Linked DNA regions of Homo sapiens: regions 1, 3 and 4 are each reported to be linked to region 2. The links are microRNA targets in miRTarBase. Many come from high-throughput screens and were not tested one by one. Region 2 holds a microRNA gene; each other region holds the end of a gene's coding sequence.
What was found. Region 2 holds the annotated microRNA hsa-miR-4433a-3p (ACAGGAGUGGGGGUGGGACAU, at 3,560-3,580, shown strand). A microRNA usually pairs through its seed, bases 2 to 8, with sites in the 3' UTR of a target mRNA and lowers its output. Matches are read on the target gene's strand: a 7mer-m8 pairs with bases 2 to 8, a 7mer-A1 pairs with bases 2 to 7 and ends in A, and an 8mer does both.

Region 1: the mRNA of LUC7L is a reported target of hsa-miR-4433a-3p. Seed matches in the 3' UTR shown: 7mer-A1 at 2,877-2,883.
Region 3: the mRNA of SUN2 is a reported target of hsa-miR-4433a-3p. Seed matches in the 3' UTR shown: 7mer-A1 at 370-376, 7mer-A1 at 944-950 and 7mer-m8 at 1,105-1,111.
Region 4: miRTarBase lists ACOX1 as a target of hsa-miR-4433a-3p. Seed matches in the 3' UTR shown: 7mer-A1 at 1,472-1,478, 7mer-m8 at 1,367-1,373, 7mer-m8 at 809-815 and 7mer-A1 at 464-470.

What each region holds. Positions count from the first base shown.
Region 1 is chr16:184,363-191,872 of GRCh38, reverse strand. It overlaps LUC7L (LUC7 like), which reads left to right. Exons shown (of 10, transcript NM_201412.3): 8 at 1,303-1,332; 9 at 1,738-1,905; 10 at 2,534-2,883. The coding sequence ends at 2,675. Among named protein-coding and RNA genes, the nearest start is that of HBQ1, 7.7 kb to the right of the region's middle.
Region 2 is chr2:64,337,250-64,344,759 of GRCh38, forward strand. MIR4433A (microRNA 4433a) reads left to right here and starts at 3,510; the gene lies at 3,510-3,590. It overlaps MIR4433B (microRNA 4433b), which reads right to left and starts at 3,599; the gene lies at 3,498-3,599. LOC105374768 (a long non-coding RNA gene) reads right to left here and starts at 4,460. Exons shown (of 3, transcript NR_189739.1): 1 at 4,286-4,460; 2 at 808-1,108; 3 at 1-658.
Region 3 is chr22:38,729,222-38,736,487 of GRCh38, reverse strand. It overlaps SUN2 (Sad1 and UNC84 domain containing 2), which reads left to right. Exons shown (of 18, transcript NM_015374.3): 18 at 108-1,754. The coding sequence ends at 221. It overlaps GTPBP1 (GTP binding protein 1), which reads right to left. Exons shown (of 12, transcript NM_004286.5): 11 at 6,826-7,026; 12 at 2,901-5,876. The coding sequence ends at 5,784. Among named protein-coding and RNA genes, the nearest start is that of SUN2, 23 kb to the left of the region's middle. RefSeq lists an enhancer at 4,292-4,341.
Region 4 is chr17:75,942,654-75,947,016 of GRCh38, forward strand. ACOX1 (acyl-CoA oxidase 1) reads right to left here. Exons shown (of 14, transcript NM_004035.7): 14 at 1-4,142. The coding sequence ends at 4,095. Among named protein-coding and RNA genes, the nearest start is that of FBF1, 3.8 kb to the left of the region's middle.

The sequences.
Region 1 (7,510 bases), not on the chromosome of region 2:
CAGGGCGAATGTTTATTGTGTTTGTTTTTGAGACAGGGTCTCGCTCTGTCACCAGGCTGGAGTGCAGTGGTGCGATATCGGCTCACTGCAGCCTCCACCCCCTGGGTTCAAGCGAGTCTCCTGCCTCTGCCTCCCAAGTAGCTGGGACTACAGGCCTGTGCCATCACGCCCAGCTAATTTTTGTATTTTTAATAGAGACAGGGTTTCACCATGTTGGCCAGGCTGGTCTCGATCTGTTGACCTCATGATCTGCCTGCCTCAGCCTCCCAGAGTGCTGGGATTACAAGCGTGAGCCACCACGCCCGGCCGTTTGTTGTTTTACCAGCAGGAGATTCTGATTGGAGAGAAACTTAAACAGTATAGAAGAAAATATTAAGCAAAACACACAATCCATTTTTTGCATGGAGTTTACATTTTTACATGCACTGTCATGTTTAGGCCATTTGTGTTGCGGATGTACATGGGGCCACTTGACCTTAATGGCTTACGGGCATAGAATGAGGCCTCATAGCTTGCCTTTTTCAGCCTCTTGGTTGTGTGGCAGAATGAGCTGATGACTCTCACCTGACAGGAAGCCTGTGCCTGGAACTTCGGGCTTTGCTTTTCCTTTTCTGTGTTTTTGGTGTGCCCCACTCGCTGTCTGCACATTCTGTGCTGGTGTCTGTTGTAAAGACTGGAGAATCATTTGTAGGACTTGAGTGCAGCACAGTCAGTGTGCACAGACTTTTCACGGCCCTTGTAATGTTACAGGGCTGCGTCTGATGCTCGGATGTGGGCCTGTCTGTGAGGCTCAGGTGACACTGAGTGTGCCACAGAGTGGCTGTGGGGATGGGAGCATTGGCACTTCCCATTCAGACTGGGAACATGCAGGCAGCTTGAAAACAGCAGGTCTTTGGGGGAGGTGCCTCACTTCTTAAATTTGGAGTCCTCCCCCAAGAGGGTGAGGAATAGGGGTGCTTTCGGGAAGTCATTCACTTTTTTTTTTTCTTTTTGAGACAAAGTTTTATTCTTGTTGCCCAGGCTGGAGTGCAGTGGCACAATCTCAGCTCACTGCAACCTCTGCCTCCTAGGTTAAAGTGATTTTCCTGCCTCAGTCTCCTGAGTAGCTGGGATTACAGGCACCCGCCACCACGCCTGGCCAGGTTTTGTGTTCTCAGTAGAGACGGGGTTTCACCACGTTGTCCAGGCTGGTCTCCAGCTCGTGACCTCAGGTGATTGCCTGCCTAGGCCTCCCCGAAGTGCTGGGATTACAGGTGTGAGCCACCATGCCTGGCCTTGTTCATCTTTTTTTCCCCCTTTTAGGTCGGGATCAAGAACCAGAGATCGCAGGAGGTAGGTTTCCAGGTCCATTAAAATGTTCTCAAATTTTTTTTTCCATAAGCATTTTTCTTAATATTTAATGATTATGCCTTTACAAATGTTACCTGGCAGGTAGGGCTGGCTTGTGAAGGGCACAGGGCAAGAGGTTGCTTGGTGCCGTGGAGGGTTCCCAGTGTTAATGAGAGGGAAGGTCGGGGCCTGCAGGGTGACAGGAGTATCCAGGCCACATGTTTTCAGGAGACCTCATTGGAAGGACCTAGCCATTGGAGATTAACTGATGGAAATATTTTAAACCTAAATTTGTGGGAGTAAAGGAGAAAATGTCAGTAAAGCAGCAAGCAGAATCTGCTGAGGGGTGGGGCCCTCATAGTGTTGGCACCTATAGAGTCTCAGCCTTGGAGCCTTCTGATTGTTCAGGTCACGCTCCCGGGATCGGCGTCGGAGGCGGTCAAGATCTACCTCCCGAGAGCGACGGAAATTGTCCCGGTCCCGGTCCCGAGATAGACATCGGCGCCACCGCAGCCGTTCCCGGAGCCACAGCCGGGGACATCGTCGGGCTTCCCGGGACCGAAGTGCGAAATACAAGTAACTACTCTGACTCCTTCGGTAGCTGCAACCAGGAGTGAGCCCTTCTCTGTGTTCCCAGGGTCTGCTGAGGGCCGTGTCTGGTGGGGATGGGGCTGGGCTCACCCTCAGGAGTAGGGCTGGGGAGTCGTGAACGGGACTCAGGTGTGGGAAGAGGCGAGAGGGCTGTGGAGGAGCTCGCACGGCGCCAGGTGATGGGCTGCACAGGCACTGTCCCCTGCCTGCGTCCTGGGGCCTGTGCACTGTTGCGTCCATGCTCAGAGTGGCTGAGACTTGTGTCCTGACCAGGCCCTGCTTACCTCTGTTTTGGTTTTTGTTTTTGATATTTTTTTTTCCATTGTGTTTTTACGTAGTGTCATGTTCTGTGCATATAGTGTTGTATTCTCCTTTGCACTGTTTATGTTACAGTGAAGGCTCTCCTTATTAAAAATCTTCGCAAAGGTCACTTTTTAATGGCTATCTAACACTCCATATGTGGTGGGCAAGTCTGGTTGGCCTCCGGGGGGTTTCCAGGTATAGGGGATGTAGGGCCTTGCCTGGCCTGGTCTGCGGGTCCATCGTCAGTGCCTGAGCGGCCAGCAGAAGGGGGGCAGCAGCCTCCACTGAGCCTCTGGTTCCCATTTCCCAGGTTCTCCAGAGAGCGGGCATCCAGAGAGGAGTCCTGGGAGAGCGGGCGGAGCGAGCGAGGGCCCCCGGACTGGAGGCTTGAGAGCTCCAACGGGAAGATGGCTTCACGGAGGTCAGAAGAGAAGGAGGCCGGCGAGATCTGAACCCGTCTCCCGGGTGCTGTAAATAGTCTGATAAACGTTCACACAGTCTAAAATTACCCTTTATATTTGCTGAATACAACTCATCTTTTGTAGTTTAAAATTTCTATTGTTTTGGAGCTAGCTGTGAGTTTCTAGAAGTGTACAGAGTTGCTCCTGTGTTCCCGGGTCATGTTGAGTAGGAATAAATAAATCTGATGCTGCCTCCTGAGGCTGCGGGGGGTTTCTGCTGTCCTCTGCGTAGAGGCTTTTCACTGTGACCCTGTGCCAGTGCCACCAGCACCTCACAGAAACCGTGACTTACTCGTGGGTCACGTCTTGTCTTCTGGCATCCAGTAGATGGCAGGGCACTTCCTGTCCCCTGCATCTGACTGACGGGACCCAGGTGTGCATGGGTGTTTGTTTGCTCGCTCCCACACAACCTTCTGAGTGTCTGAGCTGCCCATCTCCCATGGGGAGGAGGGAGGGGTCCCCATTCTGCATTCATTTATTTAGGAAAAGCTGTCTTGTCTGCTCAGCTGCTACCATAGCCTTAACTTGGGACTCAGGTGAGTTACACTGCATGTCCCCTTTTGAAGTTACTAGCAGAAAACAAAGACCCATGGGGCTGGGCATGGTGACACATGCCTGTAGTCCCAGCTACTACTAAGAAGGCTGAGGCAGGAGGATCTGTTGAGCACAGGACACTGAGGCAAACCTTGATTCCGCCACTGCACTCCAGCCTGGGTGACAAGAAAGCCCTATCTCAAAAAAAAAAAAAAAAAAAAAAAAAAAAAAAATGGTTTGACTCATGTCCCATGTGGGCTGATTATGTTTCCCACCTCTCAGTTCGTTCTTTTTTTTTTTTTTTTGAGACGGAATCTCACTCTGTCGCCCAGGCTGGAGTGCAGTGGCGTGATCTCAGCTCACCGCAACTTCCGCCTCCCAGGTTCACGCCATTCTCCTGCCTCAGCCTCCAGAGTAGCTGGGACTACAGGTGCCTGCCACCTTGCCTGGCTAATTTTTTGTATTTTTAGTAGAAACGGGGTTTCACCTTGTTAGCCAGGATGGTCTCGATCTCCTGACCTCGGGATCTGCCCGCCTCGGCCTCCCAAAGTGCTAGGATTACAGGCGTGAGCCACCGCTCCTGGCCAACACCTTTCAGTTCTTTCTAACATACCTGCTGTACATCAGGCAGGTACTTTAAGACCAAAGTAAAGGGGGACGCGGTGGCTCACGCTTGTAATCCCAGCACTTTGGGAGGCAGATAACCTGAGGTCAGGAGTTCGAGACCAGCCTGGCCAACATGGTGAAACCCTGTCTCTACCAATATACAAAAATTAGCTGGGTGTGGTGGCGGACACCTGTAATCACAGCTACTTGGGAGGCTGAGACAGGAGAATCGTTTGAACCCGGGAGCCAGAGGTTGCAGTGAACCGAGATTGCATCCAGCCTGGACGACAGCAAGACTCTGTCTCAAAAAACCCCCCAAAAACCCAAAATGAAGCCCTTCTGAAAAGGATAACTGCTAACTAATGTGTAGATGATGGGAGCTCCTTCCCTTTTTCACTTCGTGGGAGATTTTTTGGAGGGAATTCCTGAGGTTCACATTGTTAACACATAGCCATCCTCATCCGCTCTGTTTCTGCAGGGGTACACATGCCACCCTTGAGCTGGCTGGCTCAGTGGGCGCACACGGGCGCTGTGGTCTGGGTCTTTCTGCCACCGGTATCACAGTGTAGCTGGTGGCCTTGCTCTGGGCTCTCCTGCCACAGGCTGTCCCCTCCAGGAGGACAGATGGGTAGGTGGGCTGCTCTGCCAGCCCGTGACACAGGTCTAGCCCAGCCAACTGTCTCCAAGGAAAGGAGGGTGGAAGGGGCCGCCCTGTACAGGAGTCACTTGGGATTGATGCTGTGCTTTGCAGGCATCACCCATGTCGATATTCCCTGCGTGTTGCTGTTCCTCCCGTGTTGGTATTCCCCCCGTGTCGCTGTTCCCCCCGTGTCGCTGTTCCCCCCGTGTCGCTGTTCCCCCCGTGTCGCTGTTCCCCCCGTGTCGCTGTTCCCCCCGTGTCGCTGTTCCCCCCGTGTCGCTGTTCCCCCCGTGTCGCTGTTCCCCCCGTGTCGCTGTTCCCCCCGTGTCGCTGTTCCCCCCGTGTCGCTGTTCCCCCCGTGTCGCTGTTCCCCCCGTGTCGCTGTTCCCCCCGTGTCGCTGTTCCCCCCGTGTCGCTGTTCCCCCCGTGTCGCTGTTCCCCCCGTGTCGCTGTTCCCCCCGTGTCGCTGTTCCCCCCGTGTCGCTGTTCCCCCCGTGTCGCTGTTCCCCCCGTGTCGCTGTTCCCCCCGTGTCGCTGTTCCCCCCGTGTCGCTGTTCCCCCCGTGTCGCTGTTCCCCCCGTGTCGCTGTTCCCCCCGTGTCGCTGTTCCCCCCGTGTCGCTGTTCCCCCCGTGTCGCTGTTCCCCCCGTGTCGCTGTTCCCCCCGTGTCGCTGTTCCCCCCGTGTCGCTGTTCCCCCCGTGTCGCTGTTCCCCCCGTGTCGCTGTTCCCCCCGTGTCGCTGTTCCCCCCGTGTCGCTGTTCCCCCCGTGTCGCTGTTCCCCCCGTGTCGCTGTTCCCCCCGTGTCGCTGTTCCCCCCGTGTCGCTGTTCCCCCCGTGTCGCTGTTCCCCCCGTGTCGCTGTTCCCCCCGTGTCGCTGTTCCCCCCGTGTCGCTGTTCCCCCCGTGTCGCTGTTCCCCCCGTGTCGCTGTTCCCCCCGTGTCGCTGTTCCCCCCGTGTCGCTGTTCCCCCCGTGTCGCTGTTCCCCCCGTGTCGCTGTTCCCCCCGTGTCGCTGTTCCCCCCGTGTCGCTGTTCCCCCCGTGTCGCTGTTCCCCCCGTGTCGCTGTTCCCCCCGTGTCGCTGTTCCCCCCGTGTCGCTGTTCCCCCCGTGTCGCTGTTCCCCCCGTGTCGCTGTTCCCCCCGTGTCGCTGTTCCCCCCGTGTCGCTGTTCCCCCCGTGTCGCTGTTCCCCCCGTGTCGCTGTTCCCCCCGTGTCGCTGTTCCCCCCGTGTCGCTGTTCCCCCCGTGTCGCTGTTCCCCCCGTGTCGCTGTTCCCCCCGTGTCGCTGTTCCCCCCGTGTCGCTGTTCCCCCCGTGTCGCTGTTCCCCCCGTGTCGCTGTTCCCCCCGTGTCGCTGTTCCCTCCGTGTCCGTATTCCTCCCGTGTCCGTATTCCTTACCTGCACCTTTTCCTGCAGGTGGGACTCAGGGTACTTGTTCAGCACATGTGCTTTCCTCTTCGTCTTCTAGGAGGGAGTGGTTGGGTCTGGGCTCCCTGTTCCCAAGCCCACGTTGTGTTCATGGCTGTGGCTGCCTGGGTGATGAGTGTGAGTTTGCACCTGGGTTTCCCTGGGCCTTAAGCAGACAGCGTCACCCTCAGAGCCATCACCACTGTGAATCATTTGGATCTTTTTCCATCTGGGCATAAAATTGTATGTGTAGACAAATAGTTGTTTTTTGCTTTTTTGGGTGGGGGGGGTCAGGGTGTGGGGTTTACAGAAAAGGTGCTGTGCCCCTGGCCATCCTGTCCCCCGTGTCTGCTGATTACAGCTGAAGGACAGGTCCTCCTGGGATGCAGCATCAGTGTCCTCGGCCGCCCCTGGTAGCCTCCGGGGCACCATCCGTGCAGGGAGAGGCGCTCCTGCCTCTCTACCGTGCAGGGACAGTCGGGTGGGCTTTTGGTACACCTGCCAGGTGGTGCTGACCAAACTGAGCTTCATGCCCCCGGTGCAGTTTCGCTGATAGCACCCACAACAGCTCTTCCTTTCTCCCTCCTCCCTCCCTCCTCCCAAATAACCCACACCAGGTTCTGCTGTCAGAGTCTGCGATAGGAGTCCCATGTTTTCACTTTTTTCACCCAGTACAGCGAGTCCTTCCTTTCCACTGCAGTACCAGTAAATCTCGCCAAAGATGGCTACTCGGAGATATATGGGTCTGGAAGTGTATCCCTCCCATGTGAAGGGGTCTGTAGTGTCAGGTGGAACCGGCCCTTGTCTCCACCCACAGGGACCACCTTGGCCTGCAGCCCAGACTGCAGGAGAACAGAAGAGAAGGGGGCCTCTCCAGAACATTTGGCGATTAAAAAAAAACTTTTTTTTTTTTTTTTTGAGACGGAGTCTCGCTCTGTCTCCTAGGCTAGAGCGCGGTGATGCAGTCTCGGCTCACTGCACCCTCTGCCTCAGCCTCCCGACTAGCTGGGAATACAGGGGCCCGCCACCATGCCCGGCTAATTGTTGTATTTTTAGTAGAGACAACGTTTCACCATCTTGGCCAGGCTGGTCTTGGACTCCTGACCTCGTGATCCACCCGCCTTGACCTCCCAAAGTGCTGGGATCACAGGCGTAAGCCACGGCACCTGGCCAAAATTATTTATTTATTTTTTTTGAGACGATGCTTGCTTTGTCACCCATGCTGGAGTGCAGTGTTGTAGTCATGGCTTACTGCAGCCTTGAACTCCTGGACTTAAGTGATCCTCCTGCCCCAGCCTCCAAGTAACTGGGACATAGGTGTGCACTACCACACTTGGCTAATTTTTTATGTTTTTGTGGAGACAGGTCTCACTATGTTGCTCAGGATATTCTTGGGAACTCCTGGGCTCAAGCAGTCTTCCCACCTCAGCCTCTCAAAGCACTAGGATTACAGGTGTGTCACCACAGCTGGCAGTGATTTTTTTAAAGGTAAATGGCTCTGTTTGGTGGGTGCTGTCGGCGCCAAACTAGCTGGATGGGCTGTGCCTTGTACCACCTTTGCCTCCTGCACAGGGTTACCTTGGGCTTGGGGAGCGCATGGGCCTTGACCGAAGCCCTGAGTGGGTTAAGGGTAGTCCTGGGG
Region 2 (7,510 bases):
CCCTTATAAAACCATCAGCTCTCATGAGAACTCACTCACTATCACAAGAACAGCATGGTGGAAACCATTTCCATGATTCAATTACCTCCCACCAGGTCCCTCCTATGACACATGGGGATTATGGTAACTACAATTCAAGACGAGATTTGGGTGGGGACACAAAGCCAACCATATCACCCTGCTCTATTGTGTGCCTTGCCCAACCCCATATGTGAATCCCCATCATCCTCTATGGAAATGAGCCCTTTGCTTTGTCTCTCACCCGTCACCAGGGGTCTCATTCATGTCTTTATCTCCAGCCTCTGGCTGAGCCTGGCACAGGGCAGGTGCTCTGTCAGTATTGTTGGATGAAAGGATGAGTGAATACTTCTTTGACCCATCTCCCACTAATAGCGAGATGTTCAGTCAAAGAAGACATGGGTAAAGGATGAGATGTTAACTCTTGTCCAGAGTGAAGCCTGGTGCCAAGAAGCAACAGGAGGTGGGGAGAGTCTAGCATGTGTTGAGTGCCTACTATGTGCCAAGCATGGCAGTAGATGAGACTTCTTCAATCTCCTGTTCCAAATCTCTGCTGTCCACAGCTATCAGGATGCACTCAGATGCTTAGAAACAGGAAAACAAGGAGAGCTGGGGAGCACCAAAGGGCCTCTGTAGTTTCCTGGGAAAGCAGGATAAACAGTGTTAAGAGCATGAGCCCTGGAGTTGGACAGCTTAGGTCAGATCCCTACTCTATCTACTTACCAGGTATTTAACCTCCTTAAGTCTCAGTTTCTTCATTAGTAAAAAGGGGATAATAAGAGTACCCACCTTGGAGGGCTTCTGTAAGAAACTAAAGCATTTATATGCTGCTGAGACATAGTAAACATTCAACATATGGCAGGCTCTTAATATTATTTCCTCTTCTATCCGCGAACTGCCTGAGATGTTTTTTCTAGCTGGGCATTGGTTTAAAAGTCCCCGAGACTATGTTAGACCCAGGGTGGGATTGTTTTTCCAGGGCTCCTTGCAAGGAACTAGGAGAACTCTGGCAGGAGCACCCTCCGGGAGCAGCAGGGCCTCCTCAGGTGGGTTGTTTGTGGTCAGACAGGTCCTCCCAGTTCCCTCCACACTGAGAGCATTGGAGAGAAAAGAGCAAAATGAAGTGATTACCCTGAGGTACAGGCCATACTGAACACTGTCTGTGAAACAATGGTGGGGTTTGGGGTCCTCTTTGGCACTGACTTAATTTTTTCCTAAGCCCATGGGCTTAGGGGCCAGAAAAGCACCAGGTACTGCGTTAGCAGTGTCCCTCAGGCCAGATGCAGTGGCTCGTGCCTGTAATCCCAGCACTTTGGGAGGCTGAGGGTGGAGGACCCCTTGAGCCTAGGAGTTCGAGACCAGCCTAGGCAACATAGCTAGACCCTGTCCCATTTATATTAAAAAATAAATTTTTAAAAAAGAAGTGTCCCTGAAAGAGTTAACACCAAAAGTATTTGCTAAAGATCTTAAATGAAGTAATTTTTTTTCAGTTACTTGCATAGGAGTAAATAATAGTAATAAGTAACACCTGCTGAGCCCTTAAATGCAGGCATGGTGCGCTACCTGCTTTACATTGAGTTATGTGACCCACCTGCATGTTTCCTCTCTCAGACCAGGTCATCATCTGGTGATGGGGTGGGGGTACAGTTGCTATACCCTCATTATGAATTTCTTTATTAACCTTAGTCCTGTTTACCTCTAACCTAGAGGCTTCTGAGCAAGCGCCCTCCTGTCTGCCATGCTCTCCTCTGGGCAGGTTTAGCTGAGAGCTGGAAGCAGAGATGAGTCAGACATGAGTACAGTCTTGGTCTTTAGGGGCTTTTATCCCACAGCTGATTGTGGCTAGAGGGGGTGGGGCTGTTTTTAGCCCAGCTTGCAGCCTTACCCCCTGCTGCTTGCAGCACCATCAGAAGCATACCTGCTCCAAGAGAGAAAACAGACTTTGACCACAAAAGGACACATGCTTCTCTTTTGCATGTCCTCGGATGCCTACTTGGGATCGCATGGGTGCTGAGAAGATGCTGTTGATGGTTTGCCCTGGTTGTAGCTGCATTTCTAGGGGTGTGGCCTAAGCCAGGCAGTCGGGGTGAATAGGGCTTCTCCTTTCAGAGGTTCTTCCAAGAAGGGAAAATCGTGTGCCCATTGATTTTGTTTCCACCACAATCTTTGTCCAGGCCATCCATCACCTTTCCCCCTGAATCTACAACCCCTTCAGGGGTGTCTCTGTTCCCACCCTTCTCCTGTCCTATACAGTCTGCACTTGATGGCCCAGAGCAGCCTTCCTCTGACTGTTCTCATCAAGTGGCTATAACCACAGTGCTCACCCAAGGCACACTGGGGGAAATTCAAGCTTCTCCTGCCCTTTTCCTAAAATACTCATGACCACCAAACACTATTTATTCCAGTATATCTTGTGGAAGGGGGTGTTGCTGAGTATTAAGCAAAAAACTTTATTTTTGTATATTCAAACTTATGGAATAAGTTCAGGAAATACTGAGTTAAAAGGGTTAAAGTGTTGGTTTTTCAACTGCAGGACTTCTCAGACTCTTTGAGATGCTGATGTACACAAGGGGTATGGGCTGCATGTTTCTACATGCTGATTTGATATAGAACCCTAGATAGAGCATCTCGCAAGACCAGTGGTCCCTGGAACCCAGCTTAGAAAACACTGCCCCAAAGAAGTCTCCTGAGAAAAATGTATTGCTGTTGATCTTTCAGCCTTCGTCACTGCTATCCTTCCCCTAAAGGGCTTGCCTTCAGCCTCTCTACCCATCCTGGTTCCCCCAGTGCTTTGGAACCAGGACAGACACACTCTGCTCCTAATAAGCATTTCATAGTCAGCCCCAGCCCAGAGCTCTCCTTATCATTCATTCATTCATCAAATATTTTTTGAGCATTTACTTTCTTCCAGGAGCTGTGCTAAGAGATATAGTAGCAACCAAGGAACATTCCAGTAGGAAACAGACAGGTAAGTAGATGGGTTTAGTATAGTGTGAGAAGTACAATACAAACACACCCAAGGATAGATCCAGATTGAGTCTTGGACAGTCGGAAAGACTTCCAGGGGAAAAAAAATGGCATCTTTTCTTCATTTCCACACTTAGCAATTTTTCTATATTGGTTTGTCATTTATTCATTTAATCACCAATCATTTATTGTGGGCTGGGCACTGTGCAGAGATAGTAATCAGACTTGACTTGAGGACGATAAGAAATCACTGAAGGGATTTTAAGCAGAGAAAGGACATGATCTATTTACACTGGTAGATGTCACTTTGATTGTAGGAAAAGTGGACCGGCCAGGGCAAGGCTTGAGGCAGGAAGCCAGCTAGGAGACCACTGCATGAACCCACATAAAAATGAGGACCTGGGCTAGGGAAGTAGCAGGAAAAGTGGATTTTGACAGATATCTAGGACAGAGCCAACAGGACTTGGACAGCAATGGGATGTGGGGGAGTAAGAGGGAATAGTTTAGGATGATGTTCTTTCCCCCATCCTCCTTACGTCCCACCCCCCACTCCTGTTTCTGGTGAAATATTCAAACAGGAGTGGGGGTGGGACATAAGGAGGATAGGGAACACAGGATGAAGGGCAGGTTACAGGGGTCCACGTGCGAGGGGAAGATAATGTGTTCAGTTTTAGACATGCTGAGCTCATGATTCCAATTCCTTTGGACATTCCAGTGGAGATATCTGGCAGGCTGATTTTTCTCACGAGAGAAATCATGTCTGGAAATACAGATCTGAGAAGCAGCAGCAACATATGGGTGGCCACCAAAGCCGTGGACTCAGTCAGCACCATTAAGCCAGAGTGATGGGTGAGATGGGTGACAAGGGCCCCCCTTGCAGCAGGTGGGTGACAAAAGAAGAATCAGTGTTGCAGCATGGGAAGGACTGCCCAGAGAGAAAGGAAGTGAACCAGGAGAGGATCTAGAAAAAGGACACTGGGCAATGAGAGCTTGGAGCGGGCCTCTGCACCAGGGGAGGGGTGGCTTTGACTGGCAGATACACATGTCTAGTACACGTGGAGGGTATGAAAACTCCAGGGAAAGAGAGGGGCAGCAGGAGCTCCCTCTTTTTGTAAAACAGGCTTTCTCTTAGGCGTAGCCTTCTAACTGATCTGCCCCACTATCCTCAACCCACTCTCCACTTCATAGCCAGATAGGTCTTTTCAAAACACATCTCTGATCACATCACCGCCTCTCCCCCAGCTCTATTAAAAACCTTTGGATATTTCTATGGCTCTTAGCATGCAGACCAAACTCCTACCTGGCCTGGCCTCTACTTCCTTCTCCAGGTGCACCTTCTGCCAGACTCTCTTGCTCTCTCCCCTGCAGCCAGCTGGCTTCCATTCGGCCTCGCAGACTCGTTGCATGGGTGTTACATTGTTGCTGTCAGAGCCATGTCCACCCTTCCCATCCCGTGGTCCCCCGATCTGCTCTGTGTCACTGGGGGCTGTTCCAGGCTCCAGAGCCAACTGCCTTCCAGTAAAGTTCAGCCAATGGGGAGTGAGGGAGGGCAAAAGATATTGGAGGTGAAGGAAGGAGAAGCCAGAGTACTTCTCCTGCTTCTCTTTCTCAGGAGTCTCTTCTGTGGCTGCAGTTCCCACTACACAGCCATCTCTGTGTGATCCCTGCTACCCATCTTGGCAGGCCCTCTTTGTTCCAGCTTATCTTGTCTTAGGCTCCAGAAACTGTTTCTTTCCTTGTTCTCCAGCTTCCAGGGTGGTGCTATGGGTTGAATTGTGTCTCCCCTGCAAGTTCATGTGTTGAAGTTCTAACCCCCAGTACTTTAGAGTGTGACCTTATTTAGGGTTGTGGTCTTTATAGAGTAGCCGAATTAAAGTGAGGTCATTAGGGTGGACCCTAATCCAATATGAATGTTGTCCTTATAAAAAGGGGAAGTTTGGACAGAGATAGACACACACAGAGGGAAGACGATGTGAAGAGACATAGGTGAAAATGGTCATCTACAAGTCAAGGAAAGAGGCGTGGAACAGATCCTTCCCTCATAGGCCTCAAAAGGAACTACCCCTTCTGACACCTTGATTTTGGACTTCCAGCCTTCAGAACTCTGAGACAATAACTTTCTGTGTGAAGCCACCCAGTCTGTGGCACTTTGTTACTGCAGCCCTAGCAAACAAATACAGTAGTCCCAGCTTCCTGGAGTTGCTACTCTCAGGGTTCCCCTGGGAGCTCTTTCAACTCCTCTGACTCCCCGTATGAAATTCCCTCTATCAAATCACCTAGAGTGGGTTTTGCTTTCCTGGCTGGGTCCTGACTAATATGCCTGCCATGATCCTTTCTGCCACAGAGGACATAGTGCTTCCTCTGCCTGGTATTTTTCCCCCTCTCATCTTTACCTAATGAACTTTCCCTAGTAAACTCATCTAGGTCATAGGTAAATGTCACTTCCTCAAGAAGGCCTACCCCTGTATAGTCATTACCAGCTCTTATGGCTCCAAGCACCACCACTCATGGTTTTGATTTTATTTCTGTGTGTGATTATTAGTTAATGTTTTCTTCCCAGTCCATCAGGAAAGGTAGTCTTTTTTTTCTTACCACTTTCCCCAGAGCCTAGGATGATGCCTATAGTAAATATTTAATACACAGTCATGTGTGACTTAACAACGGGGATACCTACTAAAGAATGCATTGTTAGGCAGTTTCGTAATGAGAGCATCAGAGTATACTTACACAAACCTAAATGGTGTAGCCTGCTACACACCTAGACTATCTGGTCTAGCCTATGGTTCCTAGGCTACAAACACCTATAGTACGTTACTGTACTGAATAATGTGGGCAATTGTAACATAGTAGTATTTGTGTATCTAAGCACATCTAAACATAGAAAAGATACATAAAAATATGATACTATAATCTTAAGAAATCACCATTGTATATGTGGTCCCTCATTCACTGAAACATTGTTATGTGGCTCCTGACTATATATTTATTGAGTGAACGGAGGAAGGGTAGTATAATTTTGTAGATAATGCTAGTATTTATGTGCCAGTAAAGTTCTAAGCATCTTACAAATATTGCATTTAATCCTTTAATCCTCATAACAATTTATGGGATAAGTAATATTACCTCTATTTTACACATGAGTAAATTCACTTATGATCCCATAGCTAGTAAGGATTTGAACCCAGGGACTCCAGCACCAGAGCCTGAACTCTTAATCACTGTTATTCTGGCCTACGCTGTTCTCCCATGTTTTAGCAAGTCTACAAATTTTGTTTGTGCTAGCTTGCTATTATACTATGCCTTGTACCTCTTATTTGCAATGAATTATGTTTAACTTGACATGATATTAGAAAATTTCCTGGACAAATGTTTTCTATGCCAAATAGCACCCCAATAATATGCACCTTGAGTTTTAGCAAAAATTTGGTGACAAACCTATGAATACACAGTCCCAGGATGGTGAGGTTCCTGGGTATCTCACCATCTTTTGTGGTTCTGTGAAATCTGCCCACCTCTCTATAAATCATCCCCTCATTAAAATCCCTTCAGCTAAACCCTTTGGGAATGCCATCTTCCTTCTGGGACTCTGGCTGATACCCTGCAACTTCCTGGGAGCATCCCCTGGCTTTCTTATGTGTTTATGGCACGTGACATTACCATGTGACTGCAGTAGCCTGGGCTGCCTCTCCTGTGTCCGGCAGCTGTTGGCACCACCTTATGTGTGGAGAGTGCCCTGTGTGCTCAGAACACCCCAGGTACTATGGGGAGATGCCCTGGACCAAGACTCTTCATATTTCATGAGCATTACAGCGCAGAGGAAATCAATTTACACTGGCTTATTTGTGGTTTAAAAATGATCCAGCTGGGCATGGTGGCTCATGCCTGTAATCCCAGCACTTTGGGAGGCCAAGGTGGGTGGATCATTTGAGGTCAGGAGTTTGAGACCAGCCTGGCCAACATGGTGAAACCCCCACCTCTACTTAAAAAAATAAAAAATAAAAAAATTAGCCAGGTGTGGTGGTAGGCACCTGTAGTCCTAGCTACTCAGGAGGCTGAGGCAGGAGATTTGCTTGAACTCGGGAGGCAAAGGTTGCAGTAAGCCAAGATCATGCCATTGCACTCCAGCCTGGGTGACAGAGGGAGACCCCATTTAAAACAGAATAAAAAGAATGACCCTAAATCTTCTTCAGGTTTCAGACAAAATAGCAGTTTCTAGAGGGCACAGCCTATGTCCTGTTGTGGTGCATATGGAGGACTACGGTGGCCATACCTTTTTCTTGCTCACTCATTTGCCCATCTTCCTTTGCATGTTAACAGCTGCCCACTGTTCCTGCTGAGGGATTTTTCCTGCTCTATTCCATTTGGTGGAGTAAGGCACAGTGGCATTCCTCTTGGCAGCTGAGATTGGGTCAGGGATGGGACCTGCCAGATGTAATGAAACGACTTTTCCTAGTGAGGTCAACCTGCTAGGAAGATGGGAGTCTGTGGATAACCATCTCGTCTGTCTGAAGCATAAAGTCGAGAC
Region 3 (7,266 bases), not on the chromosome of region 2:
CAGGGGAGCCATCTGGCCCTAGGCGAGGCTGTCTCCCCTTCCCACCTTCTCTGTCAGTGAGGCCTCACAGGTCTCTGATGCTCTTAATCCCTTTCTTCTCTACCCAGGCCCCTACGATGGCCACGTACCAGGTGGTGGAGCTGCGGATCCTGACTAACTGGGGCCACCCCGAGTACACCTGCATCTACCGCTTCAGAGTGCATGGGGAGCCCGCCCACTAGCCCTGCTTACTGGTGCCTGCTGCCAGCCATCTGGGAGTGGGTGAACAGCACCCCGCCGCTTCCCCCACACGCTTGCTCGGCGCTCTGACTTCTAGGAGCACAAGAGAGGAGCCTGTGGCCCCATGCAGATGAAAAGGACGGGCAGGGTCTCCTGAGCAGCAGGTGGCTCGAGGCGGTTAGCAGGCTCCAGCAGCTCCCTTCTTCCTTCCCTCTGTGCCCGTGGCGTCTGCTTCCCATCCTGGGAGTGTGTATATATGTAGCATATCATGGGGGACTGGGAAGTTGGGAGAGGTAGGACCTGACTGGTCTTGGCTGGGGTCAGGGGCTGGTGCCTGGGAGCTGATGAAGCAGGTGCCAGGGCTGTGGGAGGGGCAAGCTACGGCCTGGGCTAGGTGAGCTGCCTCTGCCCCTGGGCAAGGAAGCGAGGCCCTCTGGGAGGAGGGTGCTTAGCTCCAGAGCAGGATGGGACTTCCCCAGGCAGGAAGCACTTGATGGAGAGCTGCCCAGCTCTCCTACAAGGTTAGTGCCCTCCACCTAGGGAAGCATGAACCACAGGGTCCCTGAGGGCCTTCGACAAAAGTGTGTATTTGTCCCGGGGAGGGTAGCAGTGGGCCATGGGGCTTCTTGTGCCCTAAAGGGGACTGGCTGCTGTGATCTTCTAAGGGGCCCAGGGCCAACCCTGTAGGCTTCCCCTCTGCTGGGGACGGTAGTTGCTTTTCTCTCTCCTGATGCTAGGTTGGGGCCCACCCTGCTCCCTGTTCCTGCTAGGGCCTGCCAGTGCCCCTGAGCTTGCTTTCCACATTCTCCCAGGGTATGGAGACCTAGACCTGTCTTTGGGGCCATTAGCATCTGGGGTTATAGCAAGAAGAGTGGGGAGCATGGAACTCCTGGGCTCTTGTGGGGACGTTCAGGGTATCGGGGTGCGAGGTCTGTCTGCACCGGCCCCCACATCTAACCAGGCCCTGATGTAGGGGTCGTCCGCTCAGGCTGCCCCCTTGGGCTCTTGCAGCTCTTGTTCAGGTAGTCGCCCTTCTGGTTTGTTCTCTGTGGGGCAGTTGGTGGGGGCTGGGGGAAGAGGCTGGCAGAAGTTACCCTGGATAGGGAAGGGGGAGGAGGGGACTTTTAGAGCCAGCAGGCCCCACTGTATTATGTATATATTTTTCAAGGTCTGTTTTTCTAACTGAAAAGCTAAGGGCTTGATTCCTAGCCCCGTTCTGTGGGGCACTGGGTGATACTCAGTTTCTTGTTCCTGGCCGTGGAGAGGGGCCTGGGGCACTGGTTCCGGCTGTGTCTGGTGGTCTGGCTGCGGGGAAGGGGCAAGAAGGCGGGCAGGCCTTCACTGCAGCACTGAGCCTCAAATCCGCTCTGGAGCATGAGGCTGGATGCAGTGGTGGTGAGGCCGCCCCGCTCCATCCCGAGGCAGCCAGGGTTTGTTTTGCGCTCTCCTGTCACAAATGCTGCACTATTGGTTCTTAAGTTTTTTATCTCCAGATCCTAATTTATGCCTATGCAAAAAATAAATGACGCCCAAGAGCTGTGGGATGTGGCTTTCATGTGGCTTTTGCCTATCACCTAGGGCAGCTGCTCTTGGGCAGATGAGGGAATGAATTCTTGGCCAAACGAATGTCCCCAAAGACTTATTCCTGAAGTTCAGAAACCCACAACTTTCAGCTAAAGCCCAGTTGTGGTGGGGGATGGGACCTGAGGCAGGTCTCCTCCAGTGTTTGTGGGTCAAGGGCTGGCATGAGGAAGCAGTGAGGTGGCTTTATTAGCTGTCATTGATAACCCATCACAAAGGGTGGGGCGGGAGCAGTGGGGCTTTCCTGTCTCTCAGTACCACTGAACAGCAGCAGAAAAAGTTACACTTACCTACCAGCCACGTCCACTTGGAGTGCAGTGATTCTCCTCCATGGGAATTCGCTATTTGCCCCTTGGACCTGTGACTGGGAAGGGACAAGGAGGTAGGTCCCTTGAACAGCCAGCAGCTTAGGAGAAAAACAGGCCCTGACCTTTCCCACAGATAGCTCCCCAGACCTGGTTCGCGTGGTTCTCTAGCCTGATCCTGGAGCCTCTCATACTGACCGTGGCACCTGGCCCAGGGCTGCTCCTCATCATGGCTGAGAAAACAAAGGCAGAAAGCCAGTCAGTAGGGAGGACTGTGGAGACAGCCACAAGGCAGGAGCTGGGTGAGGCACAAATCCAGCCCCCAAAGCCTTGGGCCAGCTCCTCAGCCTCTTGGGAGACAGCTGGTCCTGTGCTCACTCCCCTTCACTGACACCTGCTCTGCCTCTGACGCCATCTAAACAAAGGAGACATCCCCACGCAGCACCAATAAACAAGCCCCTGGAAGTTGCCACACACTGTGGCAAGAGTCCAGAGCCTGGGCTGGGCACATGCCCTCTGCCCATCTGTACATTCAAATCCTACTGGGCCCTCACAGCACAGCCCTCACACTGCCGGCTCCATGGTACTTCCCCCAACCCAACTAAACCTGTGCTGCCCCTGTGCGTGGCATATTCATCCCTGTGACCTTCTCTGTGCCAGGGTGGCTGATAAGCCAGAACAGTCCTGACTGTGGAGTCAGGGGTCTGGCCATCCCCATCCCACCATCACAGGCCTTACTCCTGGGAAAGACGCCACAAACACCTGCTGCACACACAGAAGGGTCAGGCCTTGCCATTGGAGGTGATTGGATTAACAATTTTATTCTGCATCCACTACAAAAGGGCTGGTGTTTTGTTCCAAATGTTTAGCTGGGAGGGCTGTAGGGACCCCTGTTACCCCCATTAAACACAGTAAAGCATGGATCCAGTCAGCCCCCTGCTGGCAGGTGTGGGCCTGGCAACTACACAGATCCAACCCCACCCTCCTGGGTGCGGCCAGAGGCCAAGGCAGTCGCCCGAGCTCCTGAATCCCAAGAATGGTTCTGGCAAGTACTGCTGTTTGTTTGTAGGGGCAAAGAGTTAAAATAAAACGAGGTTCTGCCATGGCTAAGCCTTGTGGAAACCAGACCCCAAAGCCCCTGCCATGCCAGGGGTCTCAACGCCAGACGCTTGTTATGGAGGCACCAGCAGGTAGTGGCCCCTGTAAGCAGGGCCAGAGTCGGGACAAAGAGCAGGAGTGAAGCAGCCAAGAGACAGAGGACCAGGCTGGAGCCAGTGGGCACGCAGGAGCCTGCCTGGGAAAAGCCGGGGGGCAAGGCTGGCATGGGAATGAACACCTGCTGGTGACACCTCTCTGAGCTTCAGTTCCCTTAACTAGAAAAATAGAACAGGCCCGGTGCGGTGGCTCATACCTGTAATCCCAGCACTTTGGGAGGCTGAGGCGGGTGGATCATGAGGTCAGGAGATCAAGACCACCCTGGCCGACATGGCGAAACCCTGTCTCTACTAAAATACAAAAAGTTAGCTGGGCGTGGTGGCGTGCACCTGTAGTCCCAGCTACTCAGAAGGCTGAGGCAGAGAATCACTTGAAACTGGCAGGCGGAGGTTGCAGTGAGCAGAGATCACACCACTGCACTCCAGCCTGGCAACACAGCGAGACTCCGTCTCAAAAAAGAAAAAGAAAAACAGAACAAACATCGACCTCAGGGGCGGCTGCTGGGAATGTCAACAGGAGCGTGTGAGACTCCTGGCAGTCCCAGCCAGAGCTTTCCTTTGGAGCCTGCCCAGGGCACAGAGGTGGCAGGGTGGCTAACGGTGTGCAGACCGCTCACTGAGCAAGCCTTTCCCTTGTGTAGGACACCCCAGGGCCTCACATTCTCTGAATCCACACAAGGTGATGGATGGCTTTGCCTCTTGTAAATGAGAAAACTGAGGTTCAGAGAAGGTTTGTAAGCTTGTCCCGTGTCACCAGCTGGTGAGGGAGCCTGAACACGGAAGCCATGCCTGCCTGACTGGGAAAGCTGGGCTCCTCACAGCACTGCCCTGCTCCCAGCTGTCGCCAGGGGCCCCAGGGCAGGCAGAGCAACTGCGTTCCCGTGGCAGCACCTCCACCTGGAGGGGCTGGGCAGGGAGCACCACACTGTCAACTTGGAACAAACTTTTATTTTGAATGCTGGTCTGATCAGTCCACGGCCAGGGGTAGGTGGTAACTAGAAACAGCTGGAAGGAGGGAAGGAGAGGGGACCAGCAGTCCGCAAGCAGGAGGAAAGGAAAGGGTTGGGGACAGGAGGAGGCAAGGCTGAGGAAGGACCCAGCCAGCTGGGTGTCTGCCCCGGCTAGAGAACGAACCACCCCCACCCACCAGCCTACCCTCCATCTGTGGCTTCAGTGCAGAAGTCAGTCCAGGTGGGTTCAGGCCCATGCCACCTTCTCTGGCCTGCACAGTCCCACCCCAGGCAGGGGTTCTTCCAGAAGGCTAAATGCTCTGTCCTAACCCTGGAAGTGTCCTTTCACTAACCCCTGCCTGCCCGCCCCACGCTCCAGTTGGGTCTTTCAAACCTGGAGCTCAGGCCTTCACTACTGTGCTCCTGTAGCAGCCACAGGGGTGGCGTGGTGGGGAAGATGGGGTTCTAGTCTCAGCCTGGCTCAGGGAAGATGGGGTTCTAGTCTCAGCCTGGCTCAGGGGAACATCCCTCCACCCCTCCAACAGGAGGTGCTACAAAACATGATCCTGAGCAGACCCAGACCCCCTTCTGGTAACCAGTGCCTGAGGCCCAACAAGAAGCGGGGTGATGGGAGGCTCCAGGCCGGGCAGATCAGCGAAAGCTGAGGGCAGCCAGGGCCGGCCCAGGCAAACGCAGGATTGTCTCCAAGGGGAAACCCACCAGCTGTCTTTGGGTTGGTGGCAAGGGTCAGGGTCAGGGCCCGAGATGGGGAGAGTCCTATAATCCCATCGCCATTCCCCTCCACATGTCTCCAGGTTACAACCAGAGAGCTTTTGGCATGACCTGAATCTGTGGGCTTAAAGGGAAAAAGGAGGAGAGAGAGAAAAGGGAAGCCACTACTTTCTCCCTGTTAAAATGCCCAAGTCCTAGACTGGGGGTTCCTGCTCTGGCAGCAGCAGACACCAAATCCCAGAAGCCCCTCCACCCGGTCTGGCTCCATGGAAGGTGCCCCTGAGTGCCAAGAGGAGCAGCAAGATAGGGAGGGCGGCTCCTTCCCCTCCTGACATCCCCTGACCGCCCCGAGGATTCTCAGAGACAGATACGCAGGCAGACAGCCATGGAGGAGAAAAGAGAGGTTGACAGGGCCCTGGGGGTGGCACTCCTGCACCACACACACACACACACACACACACACACACACACACACAATAGAGAGAGACAGAGACATATAATAAACAGAATAAAAACTAAGGGCCCAGATGTACAAAAAATGTGTGAGTGAGGAAGAAGGTGGGGAGGACAGTGAGAGATGGTCAGTCCTCCGGAAGTCTGGCTACCTTCGTCAGCTTATAAATTACAACCCCCCTGGAAAATGGGGGTGGGGGCAATGCGGAGGCTCCGGCTGTGGCCTGAGCGGGAGGGCTGGGTGGCGGTCATAGCTGCTCTGCCCATCTGGTGGAGTGGTGGCCAGAGATGATGACCCCTTGGGTGGTGAGGGTGGGCCAGGGGAAGGTTCAGCAGCCGCTGGCAGGAGTCACACAGGCCCCCTGGGACTTCACCTTGTGGCGCTGGCCCCCTCGTCGCCGGCCTCCACTGCTGGGCTTAGGCTGAAAGAGAGAGAAGGAGCTTGAGAAGCACTGGCCCATCAGGAGCAGGGCCAGAGAGCAGAGGTGCTGAGCAGCGGGGAGACAGGGACGGAAGATGCGTGAGCAGGCTGCGTGGTCCTCACCCTAGCCTGACCAGGAATTTACTGGGTCACTCTGCATGCAGCACCTCCCCTCTGTCTCTAAAATGGAGCCAGTGCCTGCCCTGCCTTCCTTACAGGGTGGGTAGGACACACATGATGAGGGTGTGAGAAGCGGCCGTTCAGAGAAGCACAAAGCAGAGCAGGAGAGAGAGAAAGGAAGCGAACGAACCAGAGGAAAGACCCATGGGAGACAGATAACAGAATGGACAGACAGATCCAGGCATAGCCTCCTTTTCCAATGAGGGGACAATGGAGAAAGATGCTGGGGAGAGGGGTGCAAGGGGCACCAGGCCTTCATCACGCCAGGAGAGAGTGCCTGTGGGAGACAGCTGGCAGGAGATGCCGAGTAAGAGGCGCACTGGCACATCCCAAAGCCACCTCCCCTTCAGGATGTGTGCACGTCAGGGAGGGGACAGAGGAGGACCCTCTAAGGCAGTGTCTCTCAAACCTGCTGGACTGCAGTGCACACATATATCACTTGGACACTCACACCAGCAATACTTGCAATACTTAATCTTACTATGAAAGGGAAGCTTCGACATTTTTCTGTTCTATTTTATTTCATTAAAACCAAATGCTAGTTAGGGCCAATTAAACTGGTTTCAGGTGGGCTGTATTCCCTGATTTGGAAGCACTGCCTTATAGCTTCTAGAGACAAATGCCTCATTCTTAGGAGCACTTCAGTGCCAGAGCTGTGGAGGAGACCCTCTAGCCAGGTTTGAGGCTTGCCTACATGTCACCCTCACCGAATCAGAGTAAAAGCCACAGCCCCCACCACCATGCCGAAGCTGCGAGGGGCCCGTGCTCACCTGAGGCTGGAGATTGCTGGACGCAGCTGGTTGCCCTGCCCCTACAGAGGAGGCTTCATCTCCAGGTGGGGGTGCTCCTACTGCTGGCCCACCAGACGGGCCCCCCTCGTCTCGTTTCGTCAGGGGGCCCTTTTTCGTCGACTGCATTTTAATCTGCTGCGGCTTGGAGTTCATTGGGGAGTTGTTGGTGGTCTGGAGGAGCTGTGGGAGCCATGGAGAGAGGCTGAGGCTGGAGCTGCGGGGCAGTGGCACTGGCTTGGCTACCCCCCACCCTCAGCCCCCTTCTCCCACAGACTCCTCATTCCTTGATCTTGCCAGTTCAGGGCAAGGCAGATGGCAGGAAGGCTGTGACAGGAGGCAGTGGGGATGAAGAGGCATTCTCATCCCCACTCAGTGGCTGAGGACTGCTATGGCCCTGGACTCATGCCTCACTTCCTGCCT
Region 4 (4,363 bases), not on the chromosome of region 2:
TCCTCCTCTCTCTAGCTGTAGTAGCAGCTACTGCTTGAAGACAACCTATATATCCCAGGCATACCCTCTACACGTATAAAAAGATGTGCAGGTGTTACAGACCACCTACACCTAATTCACTTCCTTTCTAATAAGATGGATGGAATAACTCGGAAAAGGGAAAGGAGGGATTTTGAGCCGCAGTTGTCTAAAGAATTATTGATTCACAGGGATCTCCAAGATCATGCATTTGAAGAGTTTTATTTCTCCACCCAAAGCCCTGCAGTGAAGAAAATCCAAGAATTAAGATGTAACATGTTGGCTGGGTGAGGTGGCTTGTGGCTTATGCCTGTAATCCCAGCACTTTGGGAAGTGTGGGGGGAGTGGGAGTGCAGATCACCTGGCCAACATGGTGAAACTCCATCTCTGCTCAAAATACAAAAATTAGCCGAGCGTGATGGCAGGTGCCTGTAATCCCAGCTACTCAGGAGGCTGAGGTGGGAGAATCGCTCGAACCCGGGAGGTGAAGATTGCAGTGAAGTCGAGATCGCACCATTGCATTCCCGCCTGGGAGACTCCATCTCAAAAAAAAAAAAAAAAAAATTAACATGTTGGCCCAGTGCAGTAGCTCACTCCTGTAATCCCAACCCTTTGGGAGGCCTGAGGTGGGAGGGTCACCTGAGGCTAGGAGTTCATGACGGGCCCAAGGCAACATAGCCATACCCTATTTCCAAAAATAAAAAAAAATAAAAAATTAGCCAGGTGTGGTGGTGTGCACCAGTAATCCCAGCTTCTCAGAGGAGGCCAAAGCAGGAGGATCACTTGAGCCCAGGAGTTGGTGGCCAAAGTGTGCTACAATCACACCACTGCATTCCAGCCTGGGTGAGAGTGAGACCCTCATGGGGTGGAAAAAAAAGATCTAACATGTTAACTTTAGGAACTATAAAATGCCTTCAGGTGTATGTGATCTGAAATTACAAGTGGTGACTTCTCAGAAAGCATATGAACACGGTGAATGTTGTAATGTTCTGAAGATAAGCTGATACTTAGTAGTGATATGTTCTAAAGACAAGAACATGAGGGCCCCAAAGCCTGTGTCATCAACTCTGCTTTGAGGTCACTAATTTTTAAATACAGAGCATAAAGTAGAACTCCAAACACTTGGGCAAGAAGAAAATCCATTGCAAATAGCCAACACATTTCTATTAAACCTCACATTTTCAATTTTGTATTTGGTTGAGAGTACTTTTTAAAAAAAGGCTTAAATCAATATTATCTAACACACACAAAAAATCTCATTAATTCTCCTCACTCTGGGCCAGATGCTGTGGCTCACACCTATAATCTCAGCACTTTGGGAGGCTGAGGCGAAATGATCGCTTGAGCCCAGGAGTCTGAGACCAGCCTGGGCAACATGGCAAAACCCCGTCTCTACAGAAAAAATAGAACAAATTAGCTGGGCATGGTGGCACGTGCCTGTCGTCCCAGCTACTCAGGAGACTGAGGAGGGAGGACCATTTGAACCCGGGAGGCAGAGGTCACAGTAAGCCAAGATCCCACCACTGCACTCCAGTCTGGGTGACAGTGATACCCTGTCTCAAAAAGATAAAAATAAAATTCCTACTCAGTAATTTTGGAGAAGACAAGGTTAAAATGTATCTTTGTACTTGTGAAAATGGCTTACAAAATTTTGAATCCAACAGACCCAAACTTGTCAGTGGCAGTCTAGTGTGGTAGAGAGAACAAACTGGACTTGCCACTTCCTTTAAGGTACAGCCAACAAATGTGTACCAAGTACTTCCAAGGACTCCTAAAGTGACTGGAGCCACTCACAACTATTGGTACAACTGCAGTAATTACAGCTGATTTACAGCTGTCCACTCAGGCAGGTATCACTCCTTCCTTTTTTGTTCTTAGTGTTCCCTAAATCTAATAAACCTCTATTCTAAATTTCTTCATAATTTAAACCTATGTTTAGTTGTGTGGCATATTTTTTCTCTCTTAATAGTACAAATCAGTGACGTTTACTCTATCTTTATTCTTGATTATATTGAATAAAGTTCAAGACAGAACATTCCAATATTAATAAAAATAGCATCAAATGTCAGATTTAGATTTTTTTTTTGAGACGGAGTCTCGCTCAGCCACCCAGGCTGCAGTGTAGTGGCACCATCTTGGCTCACTGCAACCTCTACCCGCCAAGTTCAAGCGATTATCCTGCCTCAGCCTCCCGAGTAGCTGGGACTACAGGCGCGTGCTACCACCATGCCCAGCTAATTTTTGTATTTTTTTCAGTAGAGACGGGGTTTCACCATGTTGGCCAGGATGGTCTCAAACTCCTGACCTCAGGTGATCCACCCGCTTCGGCCTCCCAAAGTGCTTGGATTACAGGCGTGAGCCACCACGCCTGGCCCCAGATTTAGATTTTAAATAAAACGTGAGGTACTGGGTCAAAGGGGGCTCTGCAGGTCGATGATCTCCTCAAACCTGCAAAGACATCCCATCTATGCAACTGGATTGGGGGGTGTCATTCCAAACACCCTCAGATCCTGCCCAGATATTCATCTGTGAACAAGGTATTTCAACACTAATTTTGAAACAATTCTACATCTAGCAGGTCAGTTTATCATTTTCCAGAATCTGAACTACTGTCAGGATAGACTCAAGTGAGATTAACACAGGGTTAATCTTCAATCTTAACACAATTATCAATTAGTTCTCCCAGTGGAACGATTAAGGCTTTTGTCAACATGTAGCATTTCTGCTGTAACCTATAAGTCTCATATTACCAGTTCCCCAGGATAGATAGATATTATGTCAGGTCCCAAGATAGGAGTTATGTTTCCATGGAATTAAGCCATATTCTCAGGACTGATTCTAGAACAGCTGGTTTCATGAGGCATATGGCGTAGATTAAAAAAAAACAAAACAAAGTGACTTACATTGACTTTAAGAAAAAATTAATTAAGATGTATTTAACCTTTAAGTATAGAATGATTGTATAAATTAGATTTCAACTGAAAGGACAATTAGCGATTCAGAGAAAGCTCCTAGAAATAGACTGAAAACAAAGCCATACATAGAGTAAGAAATAGAACCTATGGAACTTCCATTTTTCTAACTATAGTTTTTTGTTTTTGTTTTTTCCCAGTTGTTAAAAAAAAAACAACTCACAGTTTCAATATTTTCTGAACCAAAAATCAGAACACATGGTTTGTGTCAAAGGGTTTTTCTGTGCTACGTCTGGGAGTGCTGACCTAAGTGACATTTTTTTTTAATGCCAAATACAGTAATCTCCAAGCTTTTAATGGCTTATGCCAAGATGACAGAATATGTGAAATCTGATTGTCCCAGAGTTACACTCTGCACTCCAAAGCTACAACAGTGCCACAGCTGAGAGGTTTCCCTATACTTCCTACTACTGTGACAATTTAGCAATCCTTCAAATGGAAAATTCCTAATTACACGAGACAATGGTCCTACAGTAGGCCCGTGCGGAATAAGTTCCCTCGTTGGAAAAATGCTAGCATGAATAGTTTGATAAATGCAATCCATCAGCAAAGGAGAGCAAGCAGGCAGAGACTGTGCCAAGCAGAAACTCATTCGCATCAAGTTTTCCAATAAGTTTCCTTCCCCCAGTCCCTTTTCTTCAATCCTGCTTTTAAGCCAGGCCCCAGGGTAAGTCTGGTAGAACACTGAGCAGGAAAGCTTGGAAGGGTTCTACACCACTTCAAAAATACCTTTGCTTAAAAACACTTATATAGCCAGTGATTAGCAATTAAAATGTGAAAATAATCAACTACTCAGTAGTTAAATTCTGCTAATTATCAAAAGTCATAGTCTACTGGGATCAGCAGCATTACAAAAGGAAGTCATATCGCATTTCTTAAGCTTTTTCTGAATGGTTTAACAGGTCTCTTTCAGTGTTAATTGCACTTAAAACATCTGCTTTTTTTCATTTAATCTCTGAAATCTGTTCATTTTTTCCCTCCATTTATAAAAAGGGGTCAATTTATCATTTGCTCTATAGCTATTTGAATTCGAAAAAGATTCCACAAAATTTGAGTTGCACACAGGCGCTTTCTGAAGCAGATTAAACTTGTCCTTGTGACACTTCAGAGCTTGGACTGCAGTGACTTCAGGTGCTTGTAAGATTCGTGGACCTGTGGGGAAAGGAGAGAGAAGAACTACTAATAAAGAGTTTGCCATGTTAAATAGTATACTGTTTTTTGTTTTTGTTTTTGTTTTTTTTTTGAGACTGAGTCCTGCTCTGTTGCTCAGGCTGGAGTGCAGTGGCACAATCTTGGCTCACTACAGCCTCTGCCTCCCAGACTCCAGCGATCTTCCCACCTTAGCCTCCCGAGTTGCTAGAACTACAGGTGTG